Linked DNA regions of Homo sapiens. The protein of the gene in region 4 purifies or fractionates together with the protein of the main gene of each other region. This does not show direct contact. Each region holds a gene or a part of one and is shown on either strand. Other genes may lie near its edges. The genes, in order: PINX1, SLK, IPO9, ST13, TSN, CHAF1B and MAP3K3.

Region 1 (3,500 bases), on a different chromosome or scaffold from region 4:
AAACCTTAAGTGTTTTTTTATTTTAGCAAACATATTCCTTGCCCTTCACTTCTTTACTCTCGGCAGCTCAACTCTGCTTTTCCATAGAGTTGGTTTTTTGAGCCTCAGTTCTAATACAGCTTGTTGGGTTATTGCTAAACTGTTTCCAAATCATCTTGATTCCTAAGTTCTCGTGTCAATGAAAGTTTTAGTTGCCTCCCATGTGTATTTCTTGGTATTGTAAATGTGTCTGACTATAGCAGTAATGTTCCTCCCTTCCCAGTAGCTACTCTGATAGACTGGGAAACTGATAATCATGATTATTAGACAAACAGCTAAAGCAAACCTAAATAGAGTGTTCTTCCTTGAAAGTACCTGCTCATCCTTGCAGGAACTTTCAGTTTGACTCTTGGAGGCCTTTCTTACTGGTTCTGGAAATGTTACGCATTGAAGACTAATAGATGAACCAAATCCAGATAGATGTTTCCTATTCAGTTTTCTTCATTGTCGTTTTCTCTAAGTTTATCAACAGTATTTTGTATGATTTGACCATAATTCAGAACTCAAACAAATAAGCTTTTTAAATGCTTTTTAAATTTGTCGTATTTATTCAAAAGCGGCCATAATTTCCTGGTGTTTATAAGCTTTCCATCAGGACCATTAATTAGTAACTATCTCAAGGTCACTTCCATCTTCACCTTTTTGTCCACCTTTTATGTTCCTTTCCACTGGTCTCTGACTCTTCTTTCTTCTCTGTGTTCTTGTTTTCCAGATCAAATCCAGAGCAAGGCCTGTAACAATCCTGGTTTCTACATTTACTTAAGTGAACTTTGCTAAAGGCTAAAAATTTCTGATACAAGAATCCATCATCAAAACTTTAGACACATTTGCACCTTCATTGATATAGCTTACTGTCTCTACCAGCTTGACAGTTTTCCCTTTGACTTTCAGATCTGTTTTGAATCTGTGTGTTCACATTTTGACATCATGTTTTAGAACTGTGATCTCGCATGTACCCTCTCTTCCTTAATCCCTCCAGCATTCCTTTTAGTCAAATTGCTATAGAAGAGACCTTAATTTGCATTTTCTAGAGTGTCTCTATTCCAGAGGATAGGTTAGGGATAGATGGCCAGTACACATTTTGAATTAAGTACAGCTGCCTTTTCTGAAGTACAAACTGTGCTTTGCATTGGAAAATGGGTTGTGCTGGCAGCAAAGCTGTGAGGACATCTCTACACCTCCGATGAGTTTGTCCACCTCTTCCCGCTACAACCAGTTTTCTTCCCCACTTTCCCGGTTCATTTTCTGCCGTATCTGTGGTGTGCATCGTCTATTCTTAAGTAGGTTTTCTTTTGGGTCTTTTTGTGTAGGTCCTATTTAATCATAAATGAAAAGCAGGAGGGCTTAGTGTCAAGCTCAGGTAGGAAGGAGAGCAGCAGCCAGAGCCCAGAGGAGCCTGCCCTCCTGGCAGGAACAGGTCATACCGCCTGGGCCACTTCATCTGGTACTGCTGCCTAGGAAACTGGTTTTGGCACCTGGTTTTGCATTAAATTGAAGAGTGTTTTGTTTTTTTAATTTCACGGAGTCACTGAGCAATATCATATTTAAGTGCCCCAGTGATAGTGAACTAGAACCTTCTGGGTCATGACATTACTTTGCCAAGGCAGTGTGCTACAGGAAACCAAGAAGACAAGTGAGTCTGTGACGGTGGAACTCGGCTTCCAGCGTGAGACTCACATTCCTGTGTCTGACCCAGAACCTCCCTCGCCCAGAGCCTCAAGCCTTTACATGGAGTAGTTACATTTTAAAATGCATTTACCATGCCGTTGACAAATGGGACTAGATTTGGCCTACTGCTCACAGAGGATTATTGGGTAGAAGTGGAAATTCCAAAGAAGTGAATTTTAAATTAGTTGGTTTGGGGGTTTGAAATTAAAGAGTTTAGTGTTTTAAATAAGAACCATAGAGCCATTTAATTTCCTACTCTCCCTATGTAGCTTTTTATTTAGAGACAATATAGCTAGAGCAGTAAAGAACATTTTAAGAAGAAAAATCTGAAACCCTGTCACCCTTTTACAGTATTTTTGATTTACATATATTCTTTTAAAATTTTTATTTGTTGAGTTAATTATTAAGATCCTGTGTGTCAAATATGATACGTTCTCATTCATGTGCATATGTGGGGTCTGGAGCTGTGTATCTAGTGATATTTTTTCATGTGTATTTCGTAATCTTCTAAGTAAGTAGCTCATGTCTCTGAAGCAAATGAGATCTATTTTTAAATGAAGAACCCAGAGACCCAGGAATTGCATCTTGAGGGCATAGCGGGAGTAGGGTGAGCTGTAGAATTTAGCTTTCCTTGCAGTCAGTATGCTCTAGGTTGTTTCTACAATTAAGAGAATGTCAAGAGTTCTGGTTCTAAAACATTTACTTGGTTTTAAAATTTAATTAATTTTGTTTACTAATGAAAGAGTTGTAATGAAAAAGTGGGTAGAAAGTCAGTAGTTTCAAAATTGTTTCTTTCTTTCCCAAAAGCCATTTTCCTTTGAGGTGCTGCATAGTTCATGTCTGCGCTCTTTCTTTTAGGAAGAACAGTCTTACTGAAAAGCATCACATTGTTTTTCTAGGGAAGGATCTGTCATCTCGGAGCAAAACAGATCTTGACTGCATTTTTGGGAAAAGACAGAGTAAGAAGACTCCCGAGGTATAAAGCCACGTACAGTTTCCGTGTTCCGCTTTAATACTGTCTGATTTTCACCTGTGTATAGGACTGTTTCTATCTATGACTAGTACTTTTCTGACAAACTTTCCAAAACACTTTGGAGGCTTCATGCACAGCCTAGATATGATCCTTTTCATAATATTAGTGGGTAGATAATGTTTTATAAGGAATCTTTAAAAAAAAGAATAAGTGTTTTCTGGTGTTTGGCTTTTGTTCTTTTTGTTTTGGTGTGAGGACTAGATTAAACTTGGGGAAGAACACCCATTGCCGATACAATCAGAGGGGAAAATATCTCTTCCATGGCCGAGAAGGGGAGGGATTTTGTCTGTTCTGCTCAAACTGCATTACTCCACTTGGAATGGAGGTGGGAGGAAGCATGTCACCTTCATTCTCTAGAACCAGCCTGTCCCATTCTAACAGCATTTGAGACAGCGCTAGATCAGCACCATCTATAAGGGGGTTTGATGGGTATTTCCTCTATTATACAATATTATTTGCCTTACAACTAGAAGAAAAGAATGGGGTGACTAAACTACACCCTCAATGGAATGAACTCCATAATTTATTCTAATTATTAAATTGGGCTGTATAATATTGCAAAGAATTTTTTGTGCTGTTTTGAAGTGTAAGAGACAGCCCTGGATATAGTTTGAGATATATTAGGATTATGGATTTCTAAAGATAACAGGCTAAAAGTATTTAGAACTGGCATTGTCTGAGAAAATCTGGAATATATGGTTGTGACCACTGTTACTCAGCTAATCTGGTATGTTGTACTGATGATCTTTTATTGGTTTGT
Region 2 (4,710 bases), on a different chromosome or scaffold from region 4:
TTTTTCTTTCTTATTAAGATGATTAAATAGGATTTTGGTGTTCGGAGTAGGACATTCTCTGTTTATACGACATTAGAACAGTCTGGAAAGAGGTAATAGATATTGCCTTACATTGGTTACAGTTGCACTTGGACAGCTCAGAATGTCAACATGTGTGTACGAGTTAGTGTATTTAGAATACTTCTATGTAAATATTAAAATGAAGAGCAAAGTACATTAGTAAAAAAAGAGCAAAGTGACATTTTGAAAACTGCTGTCTTCTAGCTCGAGAAGCTGCAATTTGGGAGCTCGAAGAACGACACTTACAAGAAAAACACCAGCTGCTCAAACAGCAGCTTAAAGATCAGTATTTCATGCAAAGACATCAGCTACTTAAGCGCCACGAGAAGGTTAATGAAAGGAAAATTTCTTCATTTTTTTGTTCGTTTTAAAGTTTGCAAAGCTATTTAGTTTTGAAACTTAAGTTTCTTAGATAATGAATTTTAGATTTCCTTTCTGTCTTTTATCCTACAATTTCTTGGATGAAGTTTGGAGTAATTAATTGTATCTTGATCATGATTGCAAACTTCTTTTCTACAAATTATAAGGAAAGTAACTAATTACAATGCTTAAAGACGTTTTACACCTTGTAATCTTCATCTCGGCTCTCAAAGGTAGCTATTTTGGCTCTATTTGTGGTTCAAGTATCTTAAAGTATGGACTCCTTGTACTTATTAAGAGTTGCAGTATAAAACTCTCATCACTAATAACTTTCTTTTCTTTTTATTCTTTTGAGACAGAGTCTCGCTCTGTCACCTGGGCTGGAGTGCAGTGGCACTCAGTCATAGCTCACTTAACCTCGAACTCCTGGGTTCAAGGGATCCTCCTACCTCAGCCTCCCAAGTACATTCATGCACCACCACACCCTGCTAATTAAAAAAAAAAATTTTGTGTGTGGAGACAGGGTCTCACTATGTTTCACAGGCTGGTCTCAAACTCCTAGGCTCAAGTGATCCTCCTATGTCAGCCTCCCAAAGTGCTGGGATTACAGGTGTCAGCCACCAGACCTAGCCTAACTTCTTACAAGTTATTTTGTGCCTAGTATTTTGCTGGTCACTGCAACAAGGGAGAGGGTAATTATAGGAAACAACAATAACAAAATGACATATTTGAATATGCATGTGGGTACTGACTATTGTTTCTGCGTCACTGGATTCTATTTAAAACTTTCATAGGAAACAGAGCAAATGCAGCGTTACAATCAAAGACTTATTGAGGAATTGAAAAACAGACAGACTCAAGAAAGAGCAAGACTGCCCAAGATTCAGCGCAGTGAAGCCAAGACTCGAATGGCCATGTTTAAGAAGAGTTTGAGAATTAACTCAACAGCCACACCAGATCAGGACCGTGATAAAATTAAACAGGTAAATATGCAAGTTAGTCTCTTCTCTTTTAGGTTTAAAATTTTTGAATGACCATTAGAAGTTCTACAAAATTCCTTTCTTTCTAAACAATTAGAGCCACCTTAGGCTTGTTGATGTTCACTTTAATTCTGTGGGCTGGGACTATAGATACATGGCATATACCAATTAGTCTTCCCCAGGATGGTGGTCACAGAGAGCAAAGCCCTTCCTCCTATACCCCATACCAGCTCCTGAGCTAGACTGGTCCTAAGACCAGCCCTGGGAATGAGATGACTCGGACAACTTTTCAAGTCAAGATATATGGCCTCACTGTGATACTTCTGTAGTCATGGTCACACACACAAATTAACTCAGATCACTAAGCAGATAGGAGGATCAAGGTTTTAATCAGAAGTTCCTGCTCTTCTCTGAAGCTGTGATGTGGACTCCAGGTTTGAGTCTCAGCATATTATTACTTGTAGCTTCAGTTTATTGTGCCTTGTTTTGTTAAATTCCTTTATATCTTCAGAATATATAGAAATCACATGCTTCTGAACTATAGTTTATCTTTTTTTCTTATTTATAGTTTGCTGCACAAGAAGAAAAGAGGCAGAAAAATGAGAGAATGGCTCAGCATCAGAAACATGAGAATCAAATGCGAGATCTTCAGTTGCAGTGTGAAGCCAATGTCCGCGAACTGCATCAGCTGCAGGTCAGATACAGAAGCCTGACAGCAAAGCCCATAGGATGCGGCAGCACAAGTGGCTGCTTTTGAGAGAACAGTAGCTAGCCAAAGTCAACTGCATCATACACGAACATGCTGGGTTTGAGAGGTTCTGTTTTTTGTACAGATCCAAATGAAGATCAGTTTGGTATCATAGGCACTTGTGTAGATTATATATAACCATGATTAATGTAAACATAAAGCTAAATTGTAACCTACGAAATTGAGTCTTTCAAAAGCAGTATTGAGTATGGTTTTTAGTATATTTTGCAAGAAGATGTGGAGAGTTTCAAAATGATGTAGACAGTTTTGTTGTCATATTCTGAATTTTTTGTCAGATTCTAAATTTAAAATTTCTTTTCCATTTAGAGGGAAATAGTTTATTTTCTTCTAGGTTTTTGAAATAAGTGATAAGTTAAATATATGGGAATTTTTCTCCTAGGAAATTTAAAAGTTATTCGAGAGAGGGCTGATTTAGGACCTTACATAGAATGTACAGCCCATCTAAAATGTTTAAGATTTCAGAGTAGTGTATAAATGTGGGTATCTATATATTTGCTTAATTTACTATAGTAGAACAGATCCTAATAGATTGGCCTAATGGGCCAATAGATCTTTTACAGGAATAGATCTATTAGGCCAACCCTTTAGTACCAGATCCCACATTCTGTACTCACGGGTAAAATGTATGCAGGCTGCCTTCTGAAGTGTCAGTTTTATGAGCAAATCTTCTTAGAAAGGAAAAACAAAAGCTCAAGCTAGTTCTTTTTAAGTTCTTTTTATATGGTATGTAATAGTTCTAGCTTCTAAACTTGTAAAAATGAAGCTATGATTCATTTCCTAATTCATGGCCCTTGGTTTTTATAGAGGAAAACTTGAATCTCAGTAATAGCATGATATTTGATGAGTAATTTATTATTATGGAAGATAATTGTATTTGTGAAAAATTGCTTAGTTGATCTGAAATTTTTTTAAATCCCAACTTTATTTTCAGAATGAAAAATGCCACTTGTTGGTTGAGCATGAGACTCAGAAACTGAAGGAGTTAGATGAGGAACATAGCCAAGAATTAAAGGAGTGGAGAGAGAAATTGAGACCTAGGAAAAAGGTAATTTTAAAAGCTTTAATTAAAATGATATGTGTGTACTCGTCCGTCTACCCAGCTATTGGCTCTTTACCTACTGTGTCAGGTACAGTGTCAGGGGCAGGAAACATAGAGATGAAAAGACAAAGTTTTTGTCCCCAGAAGTTTTGGAATCTAGTGACAAGCAGTTAGGAATTGGTAGGGTCATTGCTCTGAAGGAGGTGAGTACAGGATACAAGGGAAAGGAACAGATTTTGTAAGCAGAGGAGGAGGAGAGCTTAAATCTGCCTGGGTAAGTCAGGGAGGGTCTTCAAGAGGAGATGCCTTGCAAGCCAAGTGAGTCTTGAAGGGTGAGTAAGAACTTGCTAAGCGGATGGGCTGATTGGAGTGGAATGGGATGATTTGAGTAGGGAGAAGAGAATGAGTGAAAAGGAAGCGTACAGAGAATTGTAGATCGTTCTCTGACATTGGAGTATGAGAGGGGGTGTGTGCCAGTGTGTAGTCATTAGGGAGGAAGAAAAGGAAGGAAGGAAGGAAGCGATGACAGCTGAGTCTGAACAGGTCAACTGGAGCCATATTAAAAGGCCCTGTTATTCTACGTAAACTTGAAATCTGGTAAAATAGGGATGGTGTCTTCTCTGTCTCACCCCTTTCCCTTGTTTGTGCTTGACACCCTATTCACCTGGTCTTACTGGCTAACCATTTCACCTGAGTTTTTGCTATCACTATATGATCTCTGACCCTTCGTTACTCAAACTTAAACCTTTGTTTTGGGGGGAGCTTCCTGCCTACTGTACATTTCCACCATTCCTTTCTTCCATCCATACAATCAGTCAAGGAAATATGTATTTAGCTATGTGCCAAAGGAAGTGAAATGACTAAATGAGTTCATAGTGTGGCTTTTTGTTTGTTTGTTTAGACAGAGTCTCACTCTGTCGCCCAGGCTGGAGTGCAATGGTGCGATCTCGGCTCACTGCAACCTCCGCCTCCTGGGTTCAAGCAATTCCTCTGCCTCAGCCCCCCAGGTAGCTGGGATTACAGGCATCCACCACCACACCTGGCTAATTTTTGTATTTTCAGTAGAGACGGGGCTTCGCCATGTTGGCCAGGCTGGTCTCAAACTCCAAACCTTAGGTGATCCACCCACTTGGGCCTCTCGAAGTGCTGGGATTATAGGCGTGAGCCACCATGCCCGGCCCATAGTGTGGCTTTTTAATTTAAATTTTCTTTATTGTTAAACTTTTTGAATAGGTAATGCATTCATGTAGTTTAGAATTCAAAAGGTACAGAATTGTAAACGGTGTAAAATCTCCTTTACCTACTTGCAGCCTAGCATCTGCTTCAAACACCCTAGTTGAACTAGTTGACAGTGGTCACAAGTGAGTTGCTAATAGTCAAATCCTATGGCCTTATCTAACTGTTCTCCTTAAAAGTCTTGTTTCTTAAAATTCTCCTCTCACCTGGCTTTTGTGACACAGCTCTGCTCATTCTCTGTGTTCTTTATCCCCTTTTGTCTCCTG
Region 3 (4,710 bases), on a different chromosome or scaffold from region 4:
ATACTATGTTGCCCAGGCTAGTAGTCTCTAACTCCTGGGCTCAAGCAATCCACCCACCTTGGCCTCTCAAAGTGCTGGGATTACAGGCATGAGTGACTGTGCCTGGCCCACTTTTGCCATTAGAAAATCTCACAGGACCACTAACCTAAGACACTGATTTTTAGGAGAATCTGTTCCTTCCCTAAAGTAAAATGTAATAATCAGACCATTAGCCTGATGGTGGGTCATCAAAAGCAGCAAAGAACGTTCAAAAATTAGATAACGCCTCGTTTAAAACAGCACAAGAATTGACATAATTTTCACAATAAATAGTCTATCAGACTTAATCTATTCAGAAAATCGATCTATCAAAGGGTAACAGCAGGTTGACATTGGCAGAGAGCTAGTAATCAGCCAGATTCTAAAAGAGAGCAATAGCCATTGCTACCTACCTTGCTACTTAATAGTATTTATTTCTCTACATCAAAAAGAAAAGATTTTTTTAAGCTAGAGTTTTTGTTTCAGTTTTTGTTGTTGTTGTTGTTTTGTTTTGTTTGCTTTTTGGGACAGGGTCTTGCTGTTTTGCTCAGGCTGGAGTGCAGTGGTGTAGACAAAGCTCACGGCAGCCTTGACCTCCCAGGCTCAAGCCATCCTCCTGCCTCAGCCTCCCGAGTAGCTGAGACCACAGGCATATGCCACCATGCCCAGTTGACTTTTTTATTTTTTGTAGAGGTGGGGTCTCACTATGTTGCCCAGGCTGGTCTCAAACTCCTGGGCTCAAGCAGTCCTCCCACCTTGGCCTCCCAAAGTGTCAGGATTACAGTTGTGAGCCATTGCATCCAGCAAAAGGCTAGAGTTTTTTCAGGATAATAGGTTGAAATCTTCCTGTATCTGTTGATGAAAAGCTATGAATCAGATTGGCAGCATCACAAAGACATAACTTGATCTTTTCAGATTAAAGTATGGACAGCCAACCCCCAACAATTTGTAGAAGATGAAGATGATGATACATTCTCCTATACTGTTAGAATAGCAGCTCAAGACTTGTTGCTGGTAAGTTTACCTTGATACTTCAGCCACATAATTTCTATCAGTCACTTGAGCATTTCTTCTTTTTTGTAGACAACTAATCCAAGGTGAGCAGTGTTGTTGGGTGGCTTTATCTCAGACTTTATTGGGGATGCAAGAGAGTTTCTGAAATGAAATTCGAGACTCAGAAATTCTAAAATCATTGCTACTGGTTCTAACTTAAAACTAAATATTAGATAAAAGAATTGTGCAGACCATAGGGCCGGGGTGCGGGGGAGAATTGTATAGAGGATAAAGTGTTCCATGGAGTAAGGGTAGTTGAATCAAGAACATTTCAGTTTATGGCTGGGCGTGGTGACTCACACCTGTAATCCCAGCACTTGGGGAGGCCGAGGCGGGCAGATCACCTGAGGTCCAGAGTTCAAGACTAGCCTGACCAACATGGAGAAACCCCATCTCTACTAAACATACAAAATTAGCCGGGCGTGATGGCGCATGCCTGTAATCCCAGCTACTCGGGAGGCTGACGCAGGAGAATTGCTTGAACCCGGGAGGCGGAGGTTGTGGTGAGCCAAGATTACACCATTGCGCTCCAGCCTGGGCGACAAGAGTGAAACTTGGTCTCAAAAAAAAAAAAAAAAGCCATTTCAGTTTAATTCACTCTTCAACAAGAATCTATAGCACAGACAAAAGGTTGGCAAACCTAGCAAAACAAAACAGATTGCTGAAAGATTAACATCCAAATACCTGCTCATGTTTTCTTTGCCTCTTCTGACTAGAGCATAGAGTTGTCTCTAGGCTGAAATACTAAGAAGAAACTGCCACTTGCTTCTTGTTGGGTAGGAGATTTGTTCTCTGTTGATGAATCACTTCTCATTATCATTTAGTATTTCTAAGGAGCTGTGAAAGATTATATTCAGTTCCAATTAGTAGATTAGACTTATTTTTCTATCATCAGTCTCCAAGAGAGCAAATATTTGGTCCATTGTCATCCAAAGCTAGATCTATTATTGCTCACTTATGCTCTGCTGAATATAGCCAAAGGAGCCAACTGGTTAGCCTTACAATGCCTAGGCACTACCGAAATACAGATACTACTTTAATTTCATTAGAGACCCTGACCTACTGGTATAACATTTTTAATACAATTAGGGGTTTGCACATGTATGTGAAAGAGCTTGAACCAATCACTTCTAACAGTCATGACTGAAGCGGTTTACAATTAAAATGCATTTAATGGGCACAAACAGATTTATTAGCTCTTCTCTCTCTATAGGCTGTGGCCACAGATTTCCAGAATGAAAGTGCAGCAGCCCTGGCTGCTGCAGCCACTCGACATTTACAAGAAGCTGAGCAAACCAAAAACAGTGGCACTGAGCACTGGTAAGAGTGAGCCGCTAATTGGTTAAGATGCTTTTGTTTACCCCTTCTTAAAAAGTCTTGAAAGGATGGATTTATTTTTATCTTAATTTGAAAATCTGGTTTTAATTTAATAACAGATTTTAATCTCTTATTATTAAAATTTCACTCTTTTCAGCTATAGGTTAGAATGGAAGGGCTTAAGGTAAATGACTCTTTTGGAAGAGATTGTGCTGGAGTGCCCTTTTCTGAATCTTGTTTCCTCAAATATTTATCTCTTTTGGCAGTTTAGTATGTTTTACTAGGCTGTAGTATCCTTTCACAGGTGGAAGATCCATGAGGCATGCATGCTTGCCCTAGGCTCAGTGAAGGCCATCATCACTGACAGTGTGAAAAATGGCAGGATTCATTTTGACATGCATGGGTTCCTGACCAATGTCATCCTTGCAGACCTCAACCTCTCAGGTATGTTTCAGCACGTGCCAGGATTCTAGAAACTCTTTAAACCTGTTGTGGGGTTGGGGGAGGGATCAGCATTAGGAGATATACCTGATGTAAGTGACAAGTTAATGGGTGCAGCACACCAACATGGCACATGTATACATATGTAACCTGCACATTGTGTACATGTACCCTAGAACTCAAAGTATAATATATATATATATATATATATATATAAAGGAAACTCTTTAAACCTGTCATTAACTTGGTTATATTGTTCACTTAGACTGGTAGGCCAGATATTCTTGTGTCCTTTGAGTGAAAATTGTTTGCACCCTACAGCTTGAACTCATCCGAACCTCTAAAACAGCCCAGAGGCCGATTCAAGCTTCACCTAATGACAATCTAATATTGCCTAGTTCATAATTCTTCCGTGATGTTTATGTTTCTTCCCAAATTGGCGTTCCCATTCATGGTTGTTTTTGGCATTTGAATGGAATCCAAATCTGGTTGCTGTACCTTGAGAATTATCGAGTACTGCTCCCATTGTTAAGTCCAGAATGCCCTCAGGCATTCTGTATCAGGCACATTCTTCCTGTTTGTTTCCTGTCATTTTTCTCAAACTTTATTTTTGGCCAATATCCAAATAATTAAAATGTTCCATTCTCATACCCATGTTAGCCATCTGTCTTAAAAAGAAAAAAGTAGGCCAGGCGCGATGGCTCATGCCTCTAATCCCAGCACTTTGGGAGGCTAAGGCAGGTGACTCACCTGAGGTCAGGAGTTCAAGACCAGCCTGGCCAACTTGGCGAAACCCCATCTCTACTAAAAATATAAAAATTAGCTGGGTGTGGTAGCAGGAGCCTGTAGTCCCAGCTACTCAAGAGGCTGAGGCAGGAGAATCACTTGAACCAGGAGGCAGAGGTTGCAGAGAACTGAGATCACACCACTGTATTCCACCTTGGGTGACAGAGCGAGACTTGGTTTAAAAAAAAAAAAAAGGTAGCCCTTTACTATTAGACCGATTTCTTCCGCAATACAGAGCAGTAGCTGAGAATCATTGTTGTCTATGTGGCATTTTCTGCTACTTGCTTCTGCCATGCCATGCCTTTTCTCATCCTTGGAGCCAGATCACCATCCGAAAACACTGCCTTTGCTTTCTCTCTCAGTACTTAAATCATGGAACCTTTGGTATTGTTTGCTCCATTTTCGGTCCATTTACTTCCTCTCCATAGGATAGTTCTGGGAGTAGCTTATGTCATTTGAAAATGTTCTGCTCTGTGATTTTAAATAGGTAATCTATTATCGGGTGTCTCAGTCCATCACTTCCATTCTCTGAATCACAAATTAAAATGGTTGTACATCCAGAGCTCAGATGCGTTGGGAATATCCTGTTTCACTCTGTACTTATCATATGCTGCATTGTTGAATATGTTTTCTTACTCCTACTAGTAAGGTCTCTGAGAGTAGAAATCATGTCTAATCTTTGTATCCTACAAGTGCCTTGAGTAGGCATCCCATAGTTACACATTGAATGATTTCTGAAGCCCATCAACACATTTCTTATAGAGTTTACCCTAGCAAAGATTTTTCAAAAACTTTGGAAATTTTAGAATATTTGTTATTTAGTCTGGAAAAAGGCTCAATATATATCATTTGTTAATCCTACCTGTAGCTAAAACCTTTTCTACACCAACCATTCTGAAACTTTTTGGTTACAAATTATCAATAATTTAAAAGACATTTTTATGTGGCTTTAATTTATTAATATTTAACATACTAAAGATTAAAACTGAGTTGTTTTTAAAATAAAAGAAATGGAAACATGTTTTCCCCTGGCTGTCAGAGCCATGATATCACATACCATATAACCTCTGGAAAACTCCACTGTATACTTGTGAA
Region 4 (4,710 bases):
ACAGTGACCCTTAACTTTTTACATACTAATACCCTTGACAGATGATGTTCATAGGCATACCAATCTTCGTCCTAGTCAGAGCATGTTAGATTCTCTTGAGTAAATCCCCTCAGAGTGAGAAAGTGGTGATAGTATTCGGTTTTGTTTTTTGTTTGTTTGTTTGGTTGGTTTTTTTGAGACGGATTCTCACTCTGTTGCCCAGGCTGGAGTGCAGTGATGCGATCTCGGCTCACTACAACCTCCGCCTCCCGGGTTCAAGCAGTCCTCCTGCCTCAGCCTCCCGAGTAGCTGGGATTACAAGCGCGTACCACCATGCCCAGCTAATTTTTTGTATTTTTATTAGAGAAGGGGTTTCACCATGCTGGCCAGTCTGGTCTTGAACTCCTGACCTCGTGATCTGCCCGCCTCAGCCTCCCAAAGTGCTGGGATAACAGGCATGAACCACTGCGCCCAGCCTCTTTTTTTATATATATTTATTTTTTTAACTCTCCAAGGTAACAATAGGTTATTATTTTTTTCTTTTTTCTGTTTTTCAGTTGTATTTTATTTTATTTTTTATTTTTGAGACAGAGTCGTGCTTTGTCGTCCAGGCTGGAATGCAGTGGCGTGATCTCGGCTCTCTGCAACCTCCACCCCAAGTCGAGCAATTCTCCTGCCTCAGCCTCCCTAGTAGCTGGGATTACAGGCGTGTGCTACCATCTCCAGCTAATTTTTGTATTTTTAGTAGAGACGGGGTTTCACTATGTTGGCCAGGCTGGTCTCAAATTCCTGACCTCGAGTGATGTGCCCGCCTCTGCCTCCCAAAGTGCTGGGATTGCAGACGCGAACCACTGCGCCCGGCCCATGGTAGTATTAAGTGTAATGTTTGATCGGTTATAATTTGTAAGAACAAATCATGTATAAACTTGGGTACTGTGGCTGCTTGAGTAATATTTCACTCTTTATAACAGTGATAGTGTGTCACAATGCCATAGTTGACTAGATGCTATTGTATAGTGCTCATGTGCATTTGGACTTCATTATTAGATTTAGAAGATGATTGAAGTTATTTTTAGAATGAGTTCAGTATTGATGTTCCGAGTTAGTATATATTTTAAACATTTTGTGATTCTACCACCTGATTAATTTAGCTCCTTAAAACATGTTTATACTGTTTTATACTGCAGTTGCCTTAATAGTTTACCTTCCTGAAAAATTTATTCCTTTATTGCTTTCTGTTTACTTTCCCTAGGTTATTCTTAGAGCTGTTTTTTATTCTACTCTTGCTTGTAACCTGTGATTAACTTTTGCATATATATTTAAGATCTTCATCAGAGGATTATAGACCTGCCAGACTAAGATCCTGTATTTTACTTCTCCAATCTTGTTTTCTCCAGTCAGACTTTACTGTTCTAGAATTTTTTTTTTTTTTTTATTTATGCTATACTGTTTCTCTGGAAAGCTTTTCTTCACATATTTCAACTTTTAATTCATACCTATCAGTTGTTCCCAGCCATTGCTCTTCTGTACCATTCCTTTTCATCGCACGAAACTTTTGCTAATTTCCCTACCACCTAAATTTTAAGAGACAGAGTCTTACTCTGCCACTCAGTTTGGAGTGCAGTGGCATGGTCATGGCTCACTGCAGCCTCAAGTTTTGTAGGCTCAAGCAATCTTCCTGAGTAGCTGGCAATACAGGTGCCTGCCACCATGCCTGGCTAATTATTATCTCTTTTTTTTTTTTTTGGTAGAGATAGGGTTTCATCCTGTTGCCCAGGCTCGTCTTGAACTCCTGCCCTCAAGCAGGCCTCCCAAGCTCAGCATCTGAAAGTGCTAGGATTACAGGTGTGAGGCACTGTGCCCAGCCCATTTTAAAATTTACTGTCTCGGCAATATGTAACAAAAGGAAAATGAGGCTATCACCTAATCATGTTTTTGTTTTCTCACTTTTTTCTGAACTCTCTGTTCATGTGCCTTTGTAAATTTAATCTAGTTCTGATTTTAGAATTTATGCAATTGTATAGTGTATTCTAAAGGATAAAAGATTAGTATTCTAAAGCAGGGGTTGTGAATCCAAGCTCCACCAAGGTTGGTGAAGGCAGTTTTGTTTGGAGAATGTAATTAAAACCTGGAGTATGGAGCCAGAGTGGTATGGTTTGAATCCCACGTCTGGCACTTAACTGTGGCTGCTTTCCCACTACAACAGCATCATTGAGTAGTTATGACAGATTGTATGGTCTGCAGAGATTAAAATAATTCTTATTTGGCCCTTTCCAGAAAACGTTTACCAACTCCTGAACTAAATGTATGGAGGAGCCATTTGTTTAGTTGGGAAGATACAGATTGGGAATAGATTTGGAAATGGGCTAGGAAATGGGAATTCAGTTTTTCGGTTTTGAGTGGGCGTGGTGGTTCACACTTAACAATCCCAGCACTTTGAGGGGCCGAAGCGAAAGGATCTCTTGAGTCCAAGAGTCCAAGATCAGCCTGGTCAACACAGTGAGACTCCATCTCTTAAACACAAAAAATTAGCTGGATGTGGTAGCACGTTTCTGTAATATGAGCTACTTGAGAGGCTGAGATGGGAGGTTCCCTTGAGGCTGGGAGGATCCTTTGAGCCCAGGAAGTTGAGGGTGCAGTGAGCTGTGATTGTGTCACTGCACTCCAACCTGGGTGACAGAGCAAGACCTTTTTTTTTTGAGATGGAGTTTCAGTCTTGTTGCCCAGACTGGAGTGCAATGGCACGATCTTGGCTCACCGCAACCTCCGCCTCCCGGGTTCAAGCGATTCTCCTGCCTCAGATTCCTGAGTAGCTGGGATTACAGGCATGCGCCACCATATGCGGCTAATTTTATATTTTTAGTAGAGACGGGGTTTCTCCACGTTGGTCAGGCTGGTCTTGGTATTTCTCCATGTTGGTCAGGCTGGTCTTGAACTCCCGACCTCAGGTGATCCACCTGCCTCGGCCTCCCAAAGTGCTGAGATTACAGGCGTGAGCCACTGTGCCCAGCCAAGACCCTGTCATAAAAAAAATTTAGGTTTTGAACATGGTAGGTCTGAGTTGTTTATTAGACATTTAAGTGTAATTACCTATAATAGATACCTGTAGTAGTAATTAATAAGACTGAGCATTTTTCTGTGTTGTTTTTGTGAGTTCTTTTCAAGTCCTTTACTCATTCGCTAACTGGCTAAGTATCTTTCACAGTGAATTGTGACATTTATTTAAAAATTTCTGTGTTCGGCCTGGCACAGTGGTAATCCCAGCTACTCAGAAGGCTGAGTTGGGGGGATTACTGGAGCCCAGGAGTTCGAGAGCAGCCTAGGTGACACAGTGAGGCCCAGTCTCTAAAAAATTTTTTTTAATTAGCCAGGTTTAGTGTTGTGGGCTTGTATTCCCAGCTACTCAGGAAGCTGAGGTGGGATGATCACTTCAGCCTGTGAGCTATGATCATGCCACTGTACTCTAGCCTATGTGAGAGTTAGACCCTGTCTCTTAAAAAAAATTCTGTATTTGTCTTGCCTCCCCAAGATTTAGACTTTGTGCAAAGAACTCTTCTGATTCTATAGGGTGTTTTATTTGTTGAATGACATAAGGGATTAGTAAAGAAGCTAACTATGAGAATAGGACAAAATGAATTAAAGTATAGGTTATGGTCTTTTATGAATTCTAGTTTTCTTGAATTTTTGTACCATTTCTTTGAATTCAAATAATAAGCATATTGTTGTTTTCTTTTAAAATCAGCCCTGTGAAGTTAACATGGGTTACTTTTCCTTTCTAAGCTTAATTTTTTCTTTTTAATTTAATGGATAAAAGAAAATCAATGGAATAAAATTAATTTATCTTATCCTTTAAATTGATTTTATCTTTTTACTTTTTTCTTTTATTTTTATTTTTATTTTTTTGAGACGGAGTCGTGCTGTGTCACCCAGGCTGGAGTGCAGTGGTGATCTCGCCTCACTGGAAGCTCCGCCTCCCGGGTTCGCGCCACTCCTCAGCCTCCCAAGTGGCTGGGACTACAGGGCTCCGCCCCCACGCCCAGCTAATTTTTTGTATTTTTTAGTAGAGATGGAGTTTCACCGTGTTAGCCAGGATGGTCTCGATCTCCTGACCTCATGATTTGCCTGCCTTGGCCTCCCAAAGTGCTGGGATTACAGGCGTGAGCCACCGTGCCCGTCTACTTTTTCCTTAAACAAGATCAATATGGGTCATACTAAGAATGTGCTATTCTATTGTTAGTTAGGGGCTTACGTACTCAGAAATTGTCTTACCTCGTGAGTTACAGTATAGGTGTGGTAAGATTTGCTTTCAAGAGCCAGTTTTAGTATAACTTAGTTGTCTTTTTTATTTTTACTTGATTAAAAGAAAAATGTAAAAGACTTAACTGGATAACAGATCAAAACTTTTTATTAATATTTTTATCCTCTGAATATTTCTCGATAACTTTTGTTTCACTTTAGGTGAACTCCAGAAAGCCATTGACTTATTCACAGATGCCATCAAGCTGAATCCTCGCTTGGCCATTTTGTATGCCAAGAGGGCCAGGTGAGAACTCTAAACAGAAAAGCATCCCCTGGCAAATAATTTCTGCACATTTGTTTAAATAGAGTTGCTTCTGTGTTGATCCCAAAACTTTTACTGAAATGAATACTTTTTAATAACACACTTATTTTTCAGTGTCTTCGTCAAATTACAGAAGCCAAATGCTGCCATCCGAGACTGTGACAGAGCCA
Region 5 (2,703 bases), on a different chromosome or scaffold from region 4:
TTTCTTGCTTACCTTGACTGTTGATGTACTGATTGAGAAGTTCATTGTCTCGTTTGTGATTCTTCCAGATGTGATGCTTGATATTTTCTATATGCGAGTTAGCCATCCACACCCAGGCATAGCCTGGATACAGTATAAAAATAGATAATTAAAAAGATGGTTGCCAAGCAAGGAAAACTTATTTTATATTTTCCCTTCCTTATTTTAAGCATTGTGAGTAAATCAGATGTTGAATTCTTTTGCCAAGGGAATTATAGCTGCAGGTTCTCTCTCACTGCCATCAAACTGTAAAAGATTAAACTGCGAAGTCAAGCTCAACAGATTATTTTGGAAAGTTTTTGTATTAAGGGATTTAGTAACATCATTTTGTTTTCCACCAGGCAGGGAGTAGGGCTTAGTGTTTTAAAACACCTCTGCTTTCTGATGTTGCCTTAATATTCTGCTATTGCAGCAATTAAAAATTGTCTTCATGTACATTTGGAACTAACACGTGATGTGATATATTCCTAAACTATGAAACCTTTTTCCTAGTAGTCAGCTAGATCATTTGTTCTGGGAGTATAAAGCCACCCACGTAAGTTAATAAGCAAAATCCTGACTATTATGTTGTTAGAGAAAAATGCTTTGCTTTGTCTGGAAGAAAGATAAAATAGTGAATTATAAATAAGTCAGGCCGGGCGTGGTGGCTCACACCTGTAATCCCAGCACACTGGGAGGCCGAGGCAGGGGGACTGCTTGAGCTCAGGAGTTCGAGACCAGCCTGGGCAACAAAGTGAGACTCCATCTCTATATAAAAACAAAAACCACGAAAGCACACACAAAATAAATCAGTGGGATTTGGTAATGTGTTTTAGAGTAAGAAATTTCAGGTTGTTGGTGACTATCCCAACAGTCATGTTTTAAATGTACAGTTTGGGGCAAGTCATGTAAATACTGTTGGTGGTCTTCCCCACACGCCCCAATTTTCAGGTAGTACTAAGAGTATGTGCCAGGAAACTCTTGCTATTGAATTGAGATGATTAAAATGGTGACTTAATCCGTAGTTATTTTGCACCCACTGAAAGGAAAGTGCTTTCCAGAATAATATGAAGTATCTAAAAGTGTCACCTTTTCTTGCCTGATCAACAATTTGGGCTTCCTGTTTGTACAAGGGGCCATTTGGCATACCTTTCACAGCTTTTATCAGGCCAAGTTAAAGGCTGACTACATTTTTTCATCATGAGGAAAGCAGTTGAAATGAGGCATGAGTTACTGTGCATTGGGATTTTAGAACAATTTTCTTGTGACAGCTCTTTTTGTGAAGTTAGGTTCTTAAAAGTGCCCATGATGGTCACTTAAAATGTGCAGTAATAGCACTGCCAGGATCAAGCATGAAAGGCTTTTAAATTAGATCATCCCACAGACAATACGTTTGATAATAGTTTTTTCTTTTAACCTCTTTAAGTATTGATTCTGCTTGAGAATATTGAAGTACTTGCCAGAAGTTGTGGATTTCAGTTTTAACAAATGCTATTAAAGTGGAGAAGCACACTCTGGTCTTGGAATTCCATTTGAGGATTTAGAAGTGTCATGTTTATAACTATTCAGTTGTGTTTGTTGCTGGCTTGTTGTAAAGCAATAAAATTTTTTTGGTCTTTTTGTAAGTGAGTGTGCTGCTGTAAGAAATCTCCCATGTGCATAACAAATTCTGAATATTTTTTGAGGCTAAAGAAGACCGGGGTGACAAGCAGATACTGCTGTGTAATGGTTACACTAACCAAAAGACACCAGCCACTCAGAGTTCTATACTGTAAAGCGCAGATAACATTTGTGTGTTATACCTTGATTGGGGAATTAAAAGTCATTTAACTGAAGATGTTGAGAAACCTGGGCTCTGGTTTTAGTATACCGGAATTACTTTTTTCCAATTTTAGAAAATCAAGCAGGTTAGAGAAAATAGAGATGAATTAGGGGACACTGTCTTATGGATTCATTTATAAGAAGAGAACCAGCCATATACACTTGGGGAGATTTGCCACATCTTAAACTTGAATAATAGTATGAGTAATGCTTAAGGGAGTTTAATAGAGAAGGAAAGCTTTGGCAGTGTTTTGAGAACTTAAGTGGCTAAAGAGATGAGACAAACATGCAGGTCGCTACTGGCATAGTTTCATAATTGTGTACTCGGAAATTAAAGTTTGCTTGTTTCTTGGTCTGGATTAAACTGTTTGTCCTCCTTTTCAGATAGAGCATCACAGTCAGGGCTGACACCAAAATAAGACTTTCCCTGAGCCTGAAATAATTTTTTTTTTTTTTTAAGTATCTACTGTAATAAGCATCAAACAAGCAGAAATAAACAATGTCCCTTCCCCTGGACAACAACAACAGCAATAACAAACATTTAAAGGCGGTAAAATTGCCAGGACTGGTGGGTTGGTTGAGTGGGCTGGGTGCGGGTAGTAGGACGAGATGGGACGGGACGGGGAGGAATCTAGCATCGCTGCCAGGTTTCTGGCTCAGGTTTGGTGCCATTCACTGAGGTGAGGAGTGTAGGAAGATCGCATGTCTGGAGGGGGCTGGGCAGCTGATGCATTTGCTTTTGGATGTGTTGGATTTATGACACTGGAGCGGCAGGTGGATAAATCAAAAGTGGGTAAGATCTCCCTGGAGAACGTGTAGAATGAGAAGAGTCACAAGCTGGGGACAAATTCTTGGTTAACAGCA
Region 6 (4,334 bases), on a different chromosome or scaffold from region 4:
CCTGTGTATTATGCGATGTTTAACAGCATCCCCGGCTGCTACTTCTTGCCCATGACATTCTTTTTTTTTTTTTCTTTTTTTTGAGATGCAGTCTTGCTCTGTCGCCCAGGCTGGAATGCAGTGGCACGATTTCGGCTCACTGCAGCCTCCACCTCCCACGTTCAAGCAATTCTCCTGCCTCGGCCTCCCGAGTAGCCGGGACTACAGGCGTGCGCCATCACACCCGGGTAATTTTTGTATTTTTAGTAGAGTCGGGGGTTTCACCACGTTGGCCAGGCTGGTCTTGAACTCCTGGCCTCAAATGATCCACCCGCCTCAGCCTCCCAAAGTGCTGCGATTACAGGCGTGAGCCACCGCGCCCAGCTTGCCCATGACATTCAAAAATGCCACTAGACATTGCCCACTGTCCCTTGAGAGGCAAAATCGCCCCTGGTTGAGAGCCACTCTATAGAACTTCCATTATATCAGTATAGGATCTTGCCAGGCAGCTCAGTTCCGTGTCTTGGCTCTGTATTCTGTAAATGTCAGCCCTTGACTTCCAGAATTCTTCATTTACTTGCCAACCTTATGTTTGTTAATGTTGCAGAGACGCCTGGAGACGCTCAGGGCAGTCCCCCAGAGCTAAAGCGGCCCAGACTCGATGAAAACAAAGGAGGCACGGAAAGTCTGGACCCTTGATGGGACCTCGGCTTCTGCTCGAAGCCTACCAGGCTCCCGGTGTGTGCAGGGAGACGGTAAAGCTGGAGGTGCCTGAGACCAGGGCTTCCATGGAGCGGGACACACTGTAAATGGATTTCTATAACAGAAGTGACATGTGTACTGATTTTTCTCCAGAAATATGGATGCTGTTGTATTCAGTATCCATTTTTAACTTGGGACATGAACGTTTTAACGTAGTAAATCCTCTTTTTGATGAGTTTCTGAAACTGGAGCGGTTCAACGTTATCCAGTGTGAAAATCAGTGAGTCCTCCCTGGCATCCTCGTGAAAGTGCACACACTTCATGGAGGGACTCCTTTTCAATAAGAATTAGGAAGATGAGAAAGTAATTTGAGATTTTACTCTGTCGAATTTTAGAGTATTTGAAGTGATTGTTAGATTTCACTTCTAAGGAGTTGATTGATTAAACTTTGGAAGGTAGTTGTGTTTGTTTTCTGATTTTAAAGGTGACGATGCTTATTCTTTTAGTAACTAAGTGAAGTGAAAAAGATGGGTATCACCCATCATCTTCCCACCAGAAGTAACCCTCGTTAATGTTGTAGTATATTTCCTTAGCATTTTTGTGGATCTATTTATTCTAAAAAGAGAATTGAGATTTTATTTCATATGCAATTTGGTATCTAAATAGGTTAGTTTTTTAGATTGGTTTTTCAAAGCAAAAAAAGTATCTTTTTTGTTTTTTGAGACAGGGTCTTGCTCTGTTGCCCAGGCTGGAGTGCAGTGGCGCTATCTCAGCTCACTGCAGCCTCGACCTCCTGGGCTCGAGCGATCCTTCCACCTCAGCTTCCCGAGTAGCTGGGACTACAGGCATGTGCCACCATGCCATGCTAATTTCACACACACATGCACCCACACACACACATATATATGATACATATATATATATATACACACACACACAAGTATGTGTGTATATATATATTTTTTTTCTTTTTTTTTTGAGATGGAGTCTCACTCTGTCGCCCAGGCTGGAGTACAGTGGCACAATCTCGGCTCACTATAACCTCCGCCTCCTGGGTTCAAACGATTCTCCTGCCTCTGCCTCTTGAGTAGCTAGGATTACAGGTGTGTGCCACCACATCCGGCTAATTTTTATATTTTTAGTAGAGATGGGGTTTTGCCATGTTGGCCAAGCTGGTCTCTAACTCCTGACCTCAGATGATCTGCCTGCCTCGGCCTCCCAAAGTGTTGGGATTACAGGTGTGAGCTACTGCACCTGGCCTAATTATTATATTTTTAGGGGAGACGGGGTTTTTCCATGTTGCCCAGGCTGGTCTCGAACTCCTGGGGCTCAAGTAATCCTCCCTCCCCAGCCTCCCAAAGTGTTGGGATTACAGGCGTGAGACACCATGCCTGGTCAAATGGTATCTGTTTTGACGGGTGGTTCTCAACTGTAGCTGCATACTGAAATCACCTAAGAGCTGACATACCAGTGCCTGGGTTCCCGCTTCGGAGGATTTGGCCTAATCGGTCTGGGGTATGTTCTGAATATTAGGATTTCTTAAAGCTCCTGGAGTAATTCTGATGCGCAGCCAAGATTGAGAAATCTAAGGGAAAAAACTTTCCCTGGATACGGTCTGTTCTGGTTAAATGCATTTCCACTGAAAGCATTTTTTTTTTTTTCCGAGACAGAGTCTCGCTCTGTCACCCAGGCTGGAGTGCAGTGGCGCAATCTCCACTCACTGCAACCTCACCTCCTAGGTTCAAGGGATTCTCCTGCCTCAGCCTCTCCAGTAGCTGGGATTACAGGCACCCGCCACCACGCCCGGCTAATTTTTGTATTTTTAGTAGAGATGGTGTTTCACCATGTTGGTCAGGCTGGTCTCCAACGCCTGACCTCGTGATCTGCCCACCTCAGCCTCCCAAAGTGCTGGGATTACAGGCGTGAGCCACCGCGCCCAGCCGAAAGCATTTTCTTGATTATCTCTGCCCCGTCACTGATTGACATCCTCCTTTGCTGGGGCCGCGGACTGAAGGACAGTATGCAGGAGGTGCCATCAGCTCTTCTGAAAAGAGACAGCTTTCAGTGTCATGTGGCTGGCGTGAGGTGCGGTTTGCAGTTGTTGATCCTGTGCAGACAGATGAATGACCATGGGTCCCCTGTCCTTATTGAGCAGCCTGCTTCCTGGCCATACCTGGGGAGGAACAGTATTAGGTTTTTCTGGGTGTGGTGGCTCACACCTGTAATCCCAGCACTTTGGGAGGCCAAGGTGGGTGGATCACTTGAGGTTGGGAGTTTGAGACCAGCCTGGCCAACATGGTGGAACCCCATCTCTACTAAAAATACAAAAACTAGCCAGGCGCGGTGGCACACACTTGTAATCCCAGCTACTCGGGAGGCTGAGGCACAAGAATCGCTTGAACCCGGGAGGCGGAGTTTGTAGTGAGCTGAGATGGTGCCACTGTACTCCAGCCTGGGCGACAGAGCGAGACTCTGTCTCAAAAAAAAAAAAAAAGAGAAAAAGAAGAACAGTATTAGGTTTTACAAATCTGTTTCTTGTGCATTGATTGTGGGAGTTGGGGTGGGGGACCCCTGATGGCCTGCCTGTTCTCAGCCATCATCCTTAAATATAAATCAAAATTGGCAATAAAAGACCAAGTGAAGTCACTTCAGTGTCATAGTCTAAAACTGCCTGCAACCATCTGGGCAGTGTATTGGGAAAGCTTTTGCAAAGGGAGCCCAGCCTGAAGGTTGGGCAGGCTTCCACCTTACAGTGGCTGCTGGGTTGAAGATCCTTCTCATGGTTCTGGATCTGTACTTGGAGGGGTCGTTGTTTCTGTTTTGAGCAGTATTTCCAGATGTCTCTAGCAACTCTACTGTTGAATATTAGTTCCTGCTGCTGGGGGTGCCTAGAAGAAAATCAGTCTCAGGCTTGGGGAGACTGCTTGGGAGAACTTGACCTGACTTCCCTGGAATCTGGGATTGTGAGGATAGGTCGGCGTTTGAAGGAAGAAAGTTGGAGGCTCAGCGTGGGCAGCAGAGGGTGAAGCCTTCATTTTATGCAGTGGCCCGTACGGTGGACAGGGGTATGCGGTGCCTCCTCGGGTTATCGTGGATAACGGGCCCAGCCATCCTCAGCAAGTGCCCACAGGGCCAGGGCCCTCTAGCAGAGAGGGGCAGGAGGATGTGCCACGGGGCAGGGGAGAAAGTCTCCTGGGGTCCTCGTTTACTCCAGTTTCCTCCCTTATATCCACTTCCGTCGTCTTTGCTGAAAGCACATCTGTGTAACGATGCCCTTGGCCCTCCTTACCTAAATAGTTGTCAGCGTTCACTTAAACAACATAGGTTCCAAGTCCTTGGCTCTGGAAACATCAAATGGGGAGAGGGAGGAGGTGGAGGATGAGCTGCTCCAGCCCCTTCTTCCCTGGTCTGGGGTCTCCCAGGACTTCTGCAGCCTCCCTGGTTATTAAGCTACAGTTCAACCTTGGGTGTGTGTGTAGGACAGACAGACTTGGACAAATTACTTCATGGGTCTGTGCCTGTTTCTTCATCAGAAAAAGTCTCTACAGCTAGAAAACCTTGGACTTTGTTTGCTTTGGTAGGGGAGAGGGGTAAGAGAAAATGTAGGGGGGGGTCACCCACAGAGAAACGAGAGACTGAGTTAATGCAGCTGG
Region 7 (4,710 bases), on a different chromosome or scaffold from region 4:
TTGGGTGTTTTGGGTTTTTTTTTTTTTTAAGATTTAAGTTCCTTGAGTCTCCGTCTCCTCCTCTGTTAAGTAAAGCAAATGCTTACCTCTCAGGATTGTTGAAAGGATTAAGTGAAGTAACAAATGTAAAAATACCTTGTGGAATGATTGCCACTTAGCAGCCACTCAAAAAATATTTGCCAAACCTCTGTTGTAGAGATGTTGAAAATCAAATGAGGTTAATTACTGTGAATGTGTAACAAAAAGTAAAGCACCACATAAATGCAAGATAATATCATTACTCAGACCAACCTGAGCAACATAGTGAGACCCTGTCTCAATTTAAAAAAAAAAAAAAAAAAGGTAATATCATTACTCATAAGCCAGGAAGTGTGGGAGTGGGTAGGAATGGAGAAGCCTGCCTTTTGATCCTGGCCAGACCATCACGAAGGCCTTTTTACCTGATACAAGTAGAGAACAAATAAGGGGAGACACTGGCTGGGGGAACAGGGCAACAGAGAGAGATGCACAGGTATATTCAGTTACCTTTCCCTGGTCCCCACCCTCAAAATACTGCTTGGACCCAAAACTAAAGAGGACTAAGCTGATGTATTGAGCTGATGGGAGGAAATGGCATTAGTGCTCTAGAGGAAGAGAGAAGGTGACATTATGAAGGAGTAATTATATATAAGAATTTTTTTAAAAGCTAGTCTGATTGCCAGCTAAAATGGTCTCCTAGGGGTTATTCTGGTTTCTGTTTTGTGTCAAGGTTTTTTTGGTCGGATATGCCGTAGTGCCTGCTCCATCTCTGGAGTTTGTTTCCTATTAGGAAGGGACTTTGTTTGCCTGAGGGAGCTGGCACATGCTGGACGTTGGTGCCATGACCCATCTGAGTCACATTCCTGACCTCTAGGGCCTAATAGTTGGCCCCATGCCTGCTCCTCTTGGGCCACACACCCTGGGCTCTGTTGTTGAAAGCCTCCTTTATGTGCTCTAGGCTCCCAGAACCCTGGCCGAAGCTCACCTCCCCCTGGCTATGTTCCTGAGCGGCAGCAGCACATTGCCCGGCAGGGGTCCTACACCAGCATCAACAGTGAGGGGGAGTTCATCCCAGAGACCAGCGAGCAGTGCGTGAGTATAGGGGGGCTGGGATATGCCTGTGGCCTGTATCAGCAGACCAAGCTCATAACAAGGGGTTCTTAGTAGTCACAGTGCAGAACTGAGGGACATGAACCCCATTTGAAAGCTCTTTTATAAACCAGGCCTGCCCAAATATGGATTGTCCCTTTTTAAGGGCCAAATAACAATTTCTGCCAAAGATGGGATCTAAAGGATCTAAACTACATAGTTTCCTTGTTGTTGGGTGAGGATTTAACAGATTTTTCTTCATCGTGGTCCTCTCATTGTTCCTACAGGCAGGCACCACCACGCCCAGCTCATTTCAGTAGTGTTTTAACATACGACTGGTTCTAAAGTGACAGGTTATGTTTTTCATTGGATATATTTTAGTTTTGCTGTTTCTTGATGAAAGGTAAGGAGTAAACCATATCAAAATTACACTGTAGGATTGGTTAGGCTGATCATTTATGATGGTAGACAGTTGTATTAGTTATCTATTGCTCCATAACAAATTACCACAAACCTAGAGGCTTAAAACAATATACATTTATCATTTTCCAGTTTCCCTGGGTGAGGAGTCCAGGCATGACTCAAATGGGTCCTCTGCTGAGGGTCACACAAGACTGCGATCAAGGTGTCAGCCAGGCTGCCTGCCTTTCTTGAGTTTGAGGCTCTTTTCTAAGCTCAGATGGTTGTTGCCAGAATTCAGTTTTTTTGTGGCTGTAGGACTGTGGTTCCTCTTTTCTTCTGAATGTCACCCAAGGGCTTCTCTGAGTTCCCTTCCTAGAGGCCACCTGCAGTTCCTTGCCATGGGGCCCTCTCACAACATGGCAGCTTCTTCAAAGCCAGCAGGAGAATCTTTTGCTCCAATCTGCAAAGATGGAGTCATAAAACATCACATAATCATAGGAATGAATATTCTATCCTCTTTGCCATAGTCTATTGGCTAGACTCACGTCACAGGTTCTACTTGCACTAAAGGGAAAGGCAGTTCATTGGGACTAATTGGAAGAGGGAGCAATCACCTTAGGGTGTGTCTACCACAGTGGCTCAGCCATTTTAGTGGCTAGCTTTTAAATTGGTGGCTTACTTGATGCAAATGGCAATTTGGCTTAGTGAACTCACCAAGCATGAGATCTCTAGCTTCATTCTGGTCTTTTCAATAAACTTGCTTTGATGTAAAAGAAAAGGCTGCTCTTACACTTTCTGGGCTTGGCCTGAGAAGGGGAAATTTCTTAAGGGGAAAATGTCCAACAGAAGGGCCTGTGCTGTCACATGGGAGATCTTATAAAAAGCTGATTCTTGTAACTTTTCTTTCATTATTCAAACTATGTAGGCTATGAGAAGCCCTTTGTACTCTTCTTCCTTCTATACTCCTGCCTTCCAGATAAATTCATGTTTGGAGTAGTGACCTGGAGTGCCATTAGCTGCAGATTTCCTTTTTGGGCATTTTACTGACCATCCTTTCTGGTTTCTCTAACCAGGGCACTTCTGGACATCAGCTGTTCTAGGGGTGACTTGGGTGTAAAATCCCAGAGATTGCAGATGAGCTTGATTGCCCTCAGTCTATGTCCCTCGCCATGGTCCTATACTCTGCCCCCTTCACTTTTTTACTTTGCCTGCATGGCCCTGGAAGGCCTGGGAGGATTTGACTCCCAGTGAGGACAGACTTTTAGAAAGAGGCCAAGGAAGGCAGTGGTTGGGGATTGCCAAGGTCCTCCCCCAGCGCCTGCCTCTTTAGCTGAAGAGAATTGCTCCTGGTAACAGGCCATTTGAGATCAATCTGCTTAACAGGAACGAACACTGCATAGTATGTAATAAAAGAATATTCCAGTGTGACTTTACTGAAAAGTGAAAATATGATAAGTTTTGTTTTTTCTTTAATCAGGTTTAAGCAATAATTGCATCTATTTACTAATTTTTAGAATGAGCAAAGCATGATTCATGTTAATTTTTTGGCCTAATTTTTCCAACAAAAATTATGTCAGTCCGGTCGCAGTGGCTCATAGCTGTAATCCCAGCACTTTGGGAGGCCAAGGCAGGAGGATTGCTTGAGGTCAGGAGTTCAAGACCAGCCTGGGCAACATAGCAAAACCCTGTCTCTACAAAAAAAAAAAATTTAATTAGCTGGGCATAGTGGCACACCTGCCTGTAGTCCCAGCTACTCGGGAGGCTGAGGTGGGAGGATCACTTGAGCCCAGGCTGCAGTGAATTGCACTCCAGCTTAGGTGACAGAATGAGACCCTGTCTCGAACAACAGCACCAACAACAAAATGCTAGCACAATGTAACGTCCTTCACTCCCTGCTTGACTTCTAACCATAAAGAACGTCATTTTTTACAAGAGCGTTCACAGGACTCAGCAGTTTTCCCCAAGGCCTCTTGTGAATCTTTGGTATTCTTCCTCCACCACACCTGCCATGTTATTTATTTGTCCATTTTGTCTTTTTCTGTTAACTAGTCTAAATTTGCCAAATATGCATCTGATGGATTTAAAGCAATTCTCTCCGATGTTGGTTTCATCCACTTTGGCTATCCTATATCCTTAGCAACATTTGCAGTTTTACTTTGCAATTAATTTGCCTTGATTGGCAGATTTTAAAAAATCATGTGTGACAACATGACTTAAAGCATTTGAAATTATGGGTGGGGATGGACCCTGGTATTAAATGGGAAAAAATATTTGAGTTGGAAACTAATTTTATGGAGGTCGTTAGTGAATTTTCATAATTCTGATACTTTGTTTCCCTATGTAATTTTTTAAAATTAATTAAAAAAATATTTAAACAGAAACAAGATCTCACTATGTTGCCCAGGCTGGTCTTGAACTCCTGAGTGCAAGTGATCCTTCCCTCTCGGCTCCCAAAGTGCTAGGATTACAGGCATGAGCCACCAAGTCTGGCCCCTATGTAATGTTTAATGTTGGAGCTCGGATAATGAATATTCTGAAATTGAAGACCCCACCCCAACTTTTGTGCAGAGAAAATGAAAGGGAGGACCTTCAGGACATTGATTGGAGAAAAAGGGATTCCAAAGGCCTTTTGTTGCTGCATTTGACCAGGGGCCAGAGAAATATTTTATTATATTTAGATATCTATTACCTCTGCATTGGACCAGGAACTGGGACATTTTTGTTCTGGTATCAGCTGTGCACTAACTAGTTTTATGACTTTAGACAAGTCTCCTAACCTTTCTAGGCCTGTAGTGCTCATCTGTGAAATGAGGCAATCCTTGTCTTTGTAAATTATAAATTATGGAGTGTAAACAGAAGCATTAAGGTCCCACCCGAACTCACTGGAAGGCTCAGCAGGGTAGTACCATCTCCAGCGCCAGGCTCCAGTGTTAATGAGCCAAGAACATGCCAACAAGAAAAGCAGAGCCTCTGCTTTGCTCTCCTGCCAGAGCTCCTTGGGATGCCAGCCAAGCATTTTTCTCCCTCCTGGAAACTTGCCTTTCAAACTAAGGGGGAGGATGGTACCTTTCTAACTATTCTTCCCATTGCATGGGGAGAAAAAGGACACTTTCATGTTTTGACAAAAAGGCCCATTTGCTGGCCCTTGCCATAAAGCCTGGGTCACTGGGGGGAATTGGGGCTGGGGGTGTGGCTTCATTG

The links.
Region 1: the proteins of ST13 (region 4) and PINX1 purify together in Homo sapiens (co-immunoprecipitation; one large-scale study listed by IntAct). This does not show direct contact.
Region 2: the proteins of ST13 (region 4) and SLK fractionate together in Homo sapiens (co-fractionation; one large-scale study listed by BioGRID). This does not show direct contact.
Region 3: the proteins of ST13 (region 4) and IPO9 fractionate together in Homo sapiens (co-fractionation; one large-scale study listed by BioGRID). This does not show direct contact.
Region 5: the proteins of ST13 (region 4) and TSN fractionate together in Homo sapiens (co-fractionation; one large-scale study listed by BioGRID). This does not show direct contact.
Region 6: the proteins of ST13 (region 4) and CHAF1B fractionate together in Homo sapiens (co-fractionation; one large-scale study listed by BioGRID). This does not show direct contact.
Region 7: the proteins of ST13 (region 4) and MAP3K3 purify together in Homo sapiens (tandem affinity purification; one large-scale study listed by IntAct). This does not show direct contact.

Annotation. Positions count from the first base shown.
Region 1 is NC_000008.11:10,819,376-10,822,875, reverse strand, and holds part of PINX1 (PIN2/TERF1-interacting telomerase inhibitor 1), read left to right. Parts: intron 1-2,606; coding exon 2,607-2,683; intron 2,684-3,500. UniProt on the Homo sapiens protein: Microtubule-binding protein essential for faithful chromosome segregation. Mediates TRF1 and TERT accumulation in nucleolus and enhances TRF1 binding to telomeres. Inhibits telomerase activity. May inhibit cell proliferation and act as tumor suppressor.
Region 2 is NC_000010.11:104,018,520-104,023,229, forward strand, and holds part of SLK (STE20-like serine/threonine-protein kinase), read left to right. Parts: intron 1-264; coding exon 265-389; intron 390-1,214; coding exon 1,215-1,403; intron 1,404-1,968; coding exon 1,969-2,094; intron 2,095-3,100; coding exon 3,101-3,214; intron 3,215-4,710. UniProt on the Homo sapiens protein: Mediates apoptosis and actin stress fiber dissolution.
Region 3 is NC_000001.11:201,856,163-201,860,872, forward strand, and holds part of IPO9 (importin-9), read left to right. Parts: intron 1-933; coding exon 934-1,032; intron 1,033-2,284; coding exon 2,285-2,391; intron 2,392-2,692; coding exon 2,693-2,832; intron 2,833-4,710. UniProt on the Homo sapiens protein: Nuclear transport receptor that mediates nuclear import of proteins, such as histones, proteasome and actin. Serves as receptor for nuclear localization signals (NLS) in cargo substrates.
Region 4 is NC_000022.11:40,835,615-40,840,324, reverse strand, and holds part of ST13 (hsc70-interacting protein), read left to right. Parts: intron 1-4,437; coding exon 4,438-4,522; intron 4,523-4,654; coding exon 4,655-4,710. UniProt on the Homo sapiens protein: One HIP oligomer binds the ATPase domains of at least two HSC70 molecules dependent on activation of the HSC70 ATPase by HSP40. Stabilizes the ADP state of HSC70 that has a high affinity for substrate protein.
Region 5 is NC_000002.12:121,765,651-121,768,353, forward strand, and holds the end of TSN (translin), read left to right. Parts: 3' UTR 1-2,203; downstream 2,204-2,703. UniProt on the Homo sapiens protein: DNA-binding protein that specifically recognizes consensus sequences at the breakpoint junctions in chromosomal translocations, mostly involving immunoglobulin (Ig)/T-cell receptor gene segments.
Region 6 is NC_000021.9:36,415,689-36,420,022, forward strand, and holds the end of CHAF1B (chromatin assembly factor 1 subunit B), read left to right. Parts: intron 1-586; coding exon 587-678; 3' UTR 679-3,327; downstream 3,328-4,334. UniProt on the Homo sapiens protein: Acts as a component of the histone chaperone complex chromatin assembly factor 1 (CAF-1), which assembles histone octamers onto DNA during replication and repair.
Region 7 is NC_000017.11:63,680,790-63,685,499, forward strand, and holds part of MAP3K3 (mitogen-activated protein kinase kinase kinase 3), read left to right. Parts: intron 1-976; coding exon 977-1,110; intron 1,111-1,546; exon of another isoform or gene 1,547-1,969; intron 1,970-4,710. UniProt on the Homo sapiens protein: Component of a protein kinase signal transduction cascade. Mediates activation of the NF-kappa-B, AP1 and DDIT3 transcriptional regulators.